Regions from separate parts of the Homo sapiens genome. Here region 1 is reported to be linked to region 2. Evidence: microRNA targets listed by miRTarBase, many of them from high-throughput screens and not tested one by one. Region 2 holds a microRNA gene; the other region holds the end of a gene's coding sequence.

Region 1 (4,063 bases), not on the chromosome of region 2:
ACCCAGCATTTACATTGAGTAGAGGGAAGACTACACCATTGTTCTAGATGGTTCAAAATTTGGCTTATCTATAGTAACCAGGTCATTTTATTCATTTACTTGTTTCTATTATATATTCATGAATACTTCAATTTTCATATGTATTTCACATATATACCATTCAAAATAAACAATATACAACAGGTTATTGTTAACAATTATAAACATTTATTAAGCACCAAGAATATACTGTGGTGGTTGCTATATGAAAACATAATTACCAATATAGTATCCCTGCCATTGAGCTTACAATCTAAAACGAAATACAAGGCTATGAGCCTATCTAAAAACTTCCTTAACTTAGAAATGGCTACTTTGGCAAATGAGTGAGGCAAAATGACCTATTATTCAGGTGCAGTGCTAATAAGGCTTTGAATATCATCCAAAGAATGTTTTACTTGTACCCATTGTTCCTGATTATGTTACACTTGCTAAGAAAAACAGTACTTAGAATTTTGGCATGAACAATGAATTATTTCAAATTGTCTTGTAGGACTTTAAACAAAGAGATGCTTACTGGCCTAAGTTTTCCAGCAGCCAGGGAAAGCCCTATTAAAAATATTATGAACTAGACCAAGTTTCTCTTTTAATCCACTTACACTTTTTTTTTTTTTTTGAGACGGAGTCTTGCTCTGTCGCCCAGGCTGGAGTGCAGTGGTGCAATCTCGGCTCACTGCAAGCTCCGCCTCCTGGGTTCAAGCCATTCTCCTACCTCAGCCTCCCGAGTAGCTGGGACTACAAGCGCCCGCCACCACGCCTGGCTAATGTTTTTTTTTGTATTTTTAGTAGAGACGGGGTTTCACCTTGTTAGCCAGGATAGTCTGGATCTCCTGACCTCGTGATCCGCCCCCCTCGGCCTCCCAAAGTGCTGGGATTACAGGCATGAGCCACCACGCCCGGCCCACTTACACTTTTTAAACTTCTTCCTCTTCTCCTATACCTAAGGGCTCCAATGATACTACTTATCAGGGAAGAAAGTACTGTATCTAGATAAACTACCCTTAAGTATTACAGGCTTAGCAAGTTGAATTTCTAGAAAATACTCATTCATAATTTATTTATTTATTTTTTTTGAGACAGAGTCTTGCTCTGTTGCCCAGGCTGGAGTGCAGTGGCGTGATCTTGGCTCACTGCAAGCTCTGCCTCCCGGGTTCCCACCATTCTCCTGCCTCAGCCTCCCGAGTAGCTGGGACTGCAGGTGCCCGCCACCACGCCCGGCTAATTTTTTTGTAGTAGAGATGGGGTTTCAGTGGTAGCCAGGATGGTCTTGATCTCCTGACCTCGTGATCCACCTGCCTCGACCTCCCAAAGTGCTGGGATTACAGGTGTGAGGCACCGTGCCTGTCCACTAATTCATATTTTAAAAGAGGACTGAGCAAAGACAGCAATGGAACCTCTGGCTGCAGGAGATGCCTGGGTATGCCTGATATGTAAACAAACACAAGCAGTCGAGTTCAGGCCATGCATCTTCAAAGTGACGAAGAATATATGTAAATGCTTGTTTTTCTCCTCCATATTTCTCGTGTAGAGGTATATGAGAATTTAGCATCAAGACGCTATACTGCAAACCCTGTTCTGTGTTGCCTATATTCATAGCATAATATTTAATAAATACTCCCAAGGTTGTCATTGCTGGTCACATATTAGCTGACAAAGGCACACTGAAGGGACTTTGATTCTTACTGTAAAATGCAAAGATTGTTTTAAACTACTCAACATATACAATCTTAAACTATGTGATGATTATTCTCGATCATTTATGATAATTTCAATTCTAAAAGATTACTAAAAAAAATTGGTTGTAGGGTATCTGAAAACAAAAATAGAATGTACTCCATAAAGTACATGCACAGAATTTTTAAAAATGCAGGCATACAAATATTTAATGGCAGAGTGGTAATAACCTGAGACTTTTTAAAAATGGCAAAACAATATTTCAGCAATTTTTGGAAAAAAAACCCAAATATTTTCCCTAAGAAGTCTCTCTTGGCAACTTTCTTTTTAAGCAACAAAGCAGCAGCAACATTTTTAAATGTTCATAAAGCTCGCTTTCCATTAACAAGTTTATTAAGGAAGAGTGGTCCTGAAACTTCAGGATAAAACTTTTGATAAAAATAGAATCACTAATTTTGACCTAAAACAGACACTAAAACACCCCTCCTTCCAATTTAAGAGTGTCATTTATACCTCCTACTTACAGTAAATAAATCAAATTAATTATAAGATTTCAAATGGAAAATCTGAAACACATATCAACATCATTTTCTTCTAATAAGATAACAGAAATTAACTTCAATGGATTTCCCCAAAAAGAGAATAGTTTCTAAAAACTTAATTACAGCTGTGGTAAATGAATCTGGGTTTACCAATCTCAGATCTCAATGCACTTAGTTTTAGTTGGTATTCTGTGAGATGGCTAGAATTCCTGATTTAAGTATGTAGTATGTATGTTTTTAAGGCAAGGCAAGTTTGAGTATGTATAAAGCATAGATATTAGCATGGTTATAAAGGCAATATGACCGACATACACATTCAGTTTTCTGAAGCAATATATTCCAAGCTACATACAATTTAATTTCATGTCCTATTCTAAGACTACATGCTTAACATTAAGCTTAGAAACATAATTGCTGTAATACATTAAAAATACTTCATTTTCCAATATTGTAAAGTATATTTCCAAATACCTGGTATAAATTTTTTTTTGCACAAAAATTTAAAGGACATCCTACAGCTAGCTATTACTACTGCGTTAAGTAATCATTTGAAGGAAGAATTCACAAGGAGAGCAGGTTATAAAACTAAGCATAATAATTATTGCATTTAACTAAAAAAAATCAAGTAGTTCTGAATTACACTTGTTTTTTGTCTTAGTAATGTGCATATTCACTTTCTAGCTACTAGTTTGATAAATATACTAAGATTGTATAAGATTTGTTTTTCTTGTTTTTGTTTTTCTTGGGTGGTTATTTTTCTTTTCTGTGTCCTTCCCCAACAGCAGTTGGAATTTTCTTTTGAACACAAAGTAAATTAATGTTTATACTGTTTTTTCACCTGAGTCATGTAAAAGGTGACTCCTTTCATTTTAAAAAGTTATATTTAATTTTTGGGGGCCTTAATTAAAATTTAACATTTAACCATGTGTTTTTTTTTTGTAAACAGTCTACATGTCAACAAATGGATAAGGGTTAACAAAGGCAAATACTGACTTCATTTGTGTTTTAAACACGATTATATGAATTTTTCTTTTTTAATTAAAAAAATGACATAAAACCATTCATATAGGTCCTCTTCTCTCAACTGCTTTGAGATATAGCTTTAAATATGGGTAGATCAAGACAAGTAATGTTGGTAATCTCTTATCTTGCATAGAAAAGAAAAAATAAAGGAACTTATTTCCTTCCTAAGGTCTCAGCTAGTTTCTTAAGTCTTTTCTTCAGCTCCAATGGAAATTTCTCATAGCACTTCTTACAGACTGGCTTCATGTCAAACTCCACAAACTTATTCCTAAAGACAAAAAATTATAAAAAAAAAGAAGTTAGTGGAAACATATTCAACAAAGATATATAAATGATGTGCAGTAATTGTACTGAACTAAACGAAGGCAACTAGGTGATGATATTATATTCATGTTAGTAAAAAAACCATAATCCTAACCTCAATTCTTATTGTGATATATATATAAAAATTCAGTATAATTTTAAAAAAAAGTCCTTATAAATTGGTTCTATACATCCATCTGTGTAACACAGACTGTAGATTACATTTTATTCAGTACTAAGTAAACAGGAAATCTAATGTAAATATAATTAACTTAAGTACAGTCAATCACTTTTTTTTTTTTTTTTTTTTGGAAACAGAGCCTCGACTGTCACTCAGGCTGGAGTGCAGTGGTGATCACAGCTCCCTGCAGCCTCTAACTCCTGGACTCAAGCCATCCTCCCACCTCAGCCTCCTGAATAGCTGGGACACAAGTGCATACTACTATGCCTGGCTAACTTAAAAATTTTTTTTTGTAGAGACA
Region 2 (4,070 bases):
GGGGCTGAGGGGTGGTAGCCAAGGGAGGGTGAAGGAGAGTATTCCAGAAGAGACAACAGCTTAGGCAGGCAGGACCTCGCCATGGAGGAAGGTGCTTTCTGATCACTGCGGGACACCTGTGTGATAGCTCATAGGGAGGGGGTACTGGTAACTAAAAGTTGATAAGGAAGAGTGGCTAAAATGAAAAGCAGAAAAGTGAGAATCTCATCAAATCCCCTCATTTGACAGGATTTGGACTCCCAGTAGTAACTGTCCTTAAACACTCACTCCTGACCTTACAACCCTGGCTGTTACCTGGTTAACAAGCCCCAGGTGTTGGCTACAGGTGTCATCACTGAGAGCCCTTGTGTGCAGATCTGCCCCAGCTCTCCCACCTGTGACTGAGGCTAGCAAGTCCCCCGTGGGCTGTAGAGCCTAGCGCTGGTGTCAGAATCGCTTGTTGCAGGTTCATCTTCAGTGTCTTTCCCACAGCCACATGCTGGGGAAAGACGGCAAAGGCGCTAGAGGAGCAGGAGAACAAAGCAAGCTGCCCCAGACCACCCGGCTTTCGCAGAACCCAGATGATGCTCCTGTCTCCCCCTAAGTATAACGTGTTATGTAGTCAGTATGATCCCATTCAGTGCAGAAGTATCGCCTAGGAATTTCCTGCCCCACCCACCCTGTTTTGTTCTTAATGAAGTTCAAGAACAAAATGAGATGATAGTCAAGTTATGGAGCAGGCTGCAGTGGATACAAGGGCAGAAACACAGTCTTTGGAGTTAGACCTGGGATCTGCATTGATTGGTTGTGTGACTGCAGACAAGTTATTTAGCCTCATTAAGGATGAATTTCTTCGCAAAAATTGGAATAATACCTGCCCCATACGACTGTTGTGAGAATTAAACACCGCAACTTTTGATGTTCAAATTCTATTTCTTCTCCTTCTAGCAACACATACTGTTAGTGCCAGGAACCATAAAAATTATAAGGCTGTATCTAGAGGCCTGAAAGGAAGCTAAAATATACAGTGTCTACTCTGTCTCTTTTCTCTTGGTTATGGTATCAGAGGAAATACACATATTTTCTTAGCTTCAAACCACCAAAAAAGATGATGCAGTAAGGAGATGGGAAATCTAATTTGGAATACAGTGTGCAAATCTTATTTTCAAGCAGACTTTGAAAATAAAACTCAATTCTTACGTTAGAGGATTATCTGCTTAATACAATTATAGGGTACCAGTTTTTGAAGTCACATCGGGGTTAAATAAGATTGCAGGTTCATGGGGTCATATTTGAATGTTCTGATACTTACATATGGGGTGGGAAGGAGGAATGCATGCTTTTCTCAAGTTAAGACACATAAAAGAGTTGTCCTGGCCCAGGTGAGACTCGCCTTTGTGTAGCAGCTGGAGCTTCATTCCACAGGCAGATAGGGTGCTTGTGTCCTGATGAAGTAAGAGAATATATCTGGAAACACTTTGTGTACTGTGAAATACTATACAAATGCAGGGCAGTACAAATGTAAATATTAATGTATTTTAGTAATAATTTTAGCTTTTATTTCATCATATATAATAATTTGTAGTGACTGGTGTGAAGTTAAATAGAATTAACCTAGAATTAATGAGTTTTGTATTGCTCTCATCTATTTGAAGCATCAGCTGTGCCTTTCATGTTGCCTTGTGCAGCCCTGTGTAACCTCCTCTGTGCCTTTCCCATGGAGCACTGTGTCATATCACAAGTAGAACTACAAGAAGATATTTCTCCTCAGGGCAGAGGCTGGGTCTTCCGATTGAATCTCCCTTCTTTCTTCATTGAGATCCTCTTCTTCTGGAAGCTGGTTTCACATGGTGGCTTAGATTTTTCCATCTTTGTATCTAGCACCATTTGAAATCAGTGTTTTAGGAGTAAGAATTGCAGCACAGCCAAGGGTGGACTGCAGAGGAACTGCTGCTCATGGAACTGGCTCCTCTCCTCTTGCCACTTGAGTCTGTTCGAGAAGTCCAGGGAAGAACTTGAAGAGCAAAATACACTCTTGAGTTTGTTGGGTTTTGGGAGAGGTGACAGTAGAGAAGGGGGTTGTGTTTAAAATAAACACAGTGGCTTGAGCAGGGGCAGAGGTTGTGATGCTATTTCTGTTGACTCCTAGCAGCCATCACCAGCATGAATGTGTTCGTAGGGCCTTTGAGTGTGGCGATTGTCATATTCTGTTGGATAACAATGTATTGGGTGTCGATTGTCATGGGGCAGGGGAGAGGGCAGTACACCTGGAGGACCATTTTGTCCACATCGACACCATCAGTCTGCTCTTAGAGGATGCCCTGGAGTATTCGGCGTTGATTGCGGGGCACCCGAAATCAGACTTGCCACCTGGACTGTCGAGGTGCAGACCCTGGGAGCACCACTGGCCCATCTCTTACACAGGCTGACCGATTTCTCCTGGTGTTCAGAGTCTGTTTTTGTCTAGCACCATTTGAAATCGGTTATGATGTAGGGGGAAAAGCAGCAGCCTCGAAGCCTCATGCCAACTCTGGGCAGCAGCAGCCTGTGGTTTCCTGGAAGATGGATGGGCAGAGAATAGGGAAGGAAGATCATGCTTTTCCCTACTAACTTCTGTAACTGCATGTATGATACATTATTGCAGAGGTAAGAGATAGTTTAATGGATTTTTAAAAACAAATTACTATAATTTATCTGATGTTCTCTAGTTGCATTTTGCTGAAATGTAGTGCTGTTCTAAATTCTGTAAATTGATTGCTGTTGAATTATCTTTCTGTTGAGAAGAGTCTATTCATGCATCCTGACCTTAATAAATACTATGTTCAGTTTATCATGTCTGTGTTTTTCATCTATTATTTCCCATTCATAATTCTGTGATGATAAGAAGTGGGTCCTGAAAAATTAATTGGCTGTGCAGATCTTGCCTACTTCATAAAGAATTTGAAGTAGGTTACAGCCAGCCAGACATTAAAAATGAAGCCCATTAAGAGAAGAATGAAATTCTATGAGCCAAGAAATAAAATGAGAGAAAAGATTAGGGAAGAGAAGAAATGTTGAAGATCAAGGCTGAGGGATGCTCCCTACTGAATGGGAAAACTCCTTAGTTCCACATGGGCTGTAGACACAGCCCTTCTGCCAGCAACTGTTCCTGCAAGGAACTGGTGCTCAACTAAACATACTGTCACATGGTTCCTTGAAGGGGCACAGCACTGATTTCACTTGCATTATAAAAGATTGAGTGGTGCTTTTGACTATTAGTTTATGTCAACACTTCAAAACAAGATGAGCCAGTTTTTTTTTGTTTTTTTTTTTTGTTTGTTTGTTTGTTTTAGACGGAGTCTCACCCTGTCACCCAGGCTGGAGTGCAATGGCACTGTCCCCGCTCACTGCAACCTCCGCCTCCCGGGTTCAAGCAATTCTGCCTCAGCCTTCCGAGTAGCTGGGATTACAGGCGTGGCACCTCCACGCCCAGCTAATTTCTGTATTTTGTAGTAGAGACGGGGTTTCATCATGTTGGCCAGGCTTGTCTCGAACTGCTGACCCCGTGATCCACCCACCTCAGCCTCCCAAAGTGCTGGGATTACAGGCGTGAACCACCTCGCCTGGCCCAGTGAGCCAGTTTTGTAAAGCTATTCAGAGATTAGCCAGATTTGATTTGATAGGGGATCAAGCTTGTAGGATCTTCAGGAAGGCGGGCTGTGGCCCCTTGATCAGGCTTTTTGCACAGGAGGTGCATGACTATGAACTACCCTCAGTAGAACTCTTTTAAGCCAGTGGCTTGCAATAAATGATGGCAAATCAGCCACCTAGGAAGCCATTTCTAAGCCCAACCCCCTGCCACAGTCTTCCTCTAGATGGCTGCCCTGCCCAGTGGGCTGAGAGTGGGGGGCGGAAGTAGCATTTGCTGGGAAGACTTGCCAGTACATATGTTGCACCCCCTCACTGCAGCTGCAGTGCTATTTCAGGCTGTTGATGGAAGAACCCATGTTCTAATCCCCAGGATGTGGTGGGAAGACCCTAAGTGGTGGTGTTAGTTAAGACCCTAAGTTATATTGTTTTGTTCACTTCCCACTGAGATAGGCTACAATAGT

Evidence for each region. Region 2 holds the annotated microRNA hsa-miR-29c-3p (UAGCACCAUUUGAAAUCGGUUA, at 2,444-2,465, shown strand). A microRNA usually pairs through its seed, bases 2 to 8, with sites in the 3' UTR of a target mRNA and lowers its output. Matches are read on the target gene's strand: a 7mer-m8 pairs with bases 2 to 8, a 7mer-A1 pairs with bases 2 to 7 and ends in A, and an 8mer does both.
Region 1: miRTarBase lists LIMS1 as a target of hsa-miR-29c-3p. Seed matches in the 3' UTR shown: 7mer-m8 at 214-220.

Annotation. Positions count from the first base shown.
Region 1 is chr2:108,683,368-108,687,430 of GRCh38, reverse strand. It overlaps LIMS1 (LIM zinc finger domain containing 1), which reads right to left. Exons shown (of 10, transcript NM_001193483.3): 10 at 185-3,546. The coding sequence ends at 3,432. Among named protein-coding and RNA genes, the nearest start is that of LIMS1-AS1, 6.8 kb to the right of the region's middle.
Region 2 is chr1:207,800,260-207,804,329 of GRCh38, reverse strand. MIR29C (microRNA 29c) reads left to right here and starts at 2,391; the gene lies at 2,391-2,478. It overlaps MIR29B2CHG (MIR29B2 and MIR29C host gene), which reads left to right. Exons shown (of 6, transcript NR_135299.1): 6 at 1,668-2,812. MIR29B2 (microRNA 29b-2) reads left to right here and starts at 1,807; the gene lies at 1,807-1,887.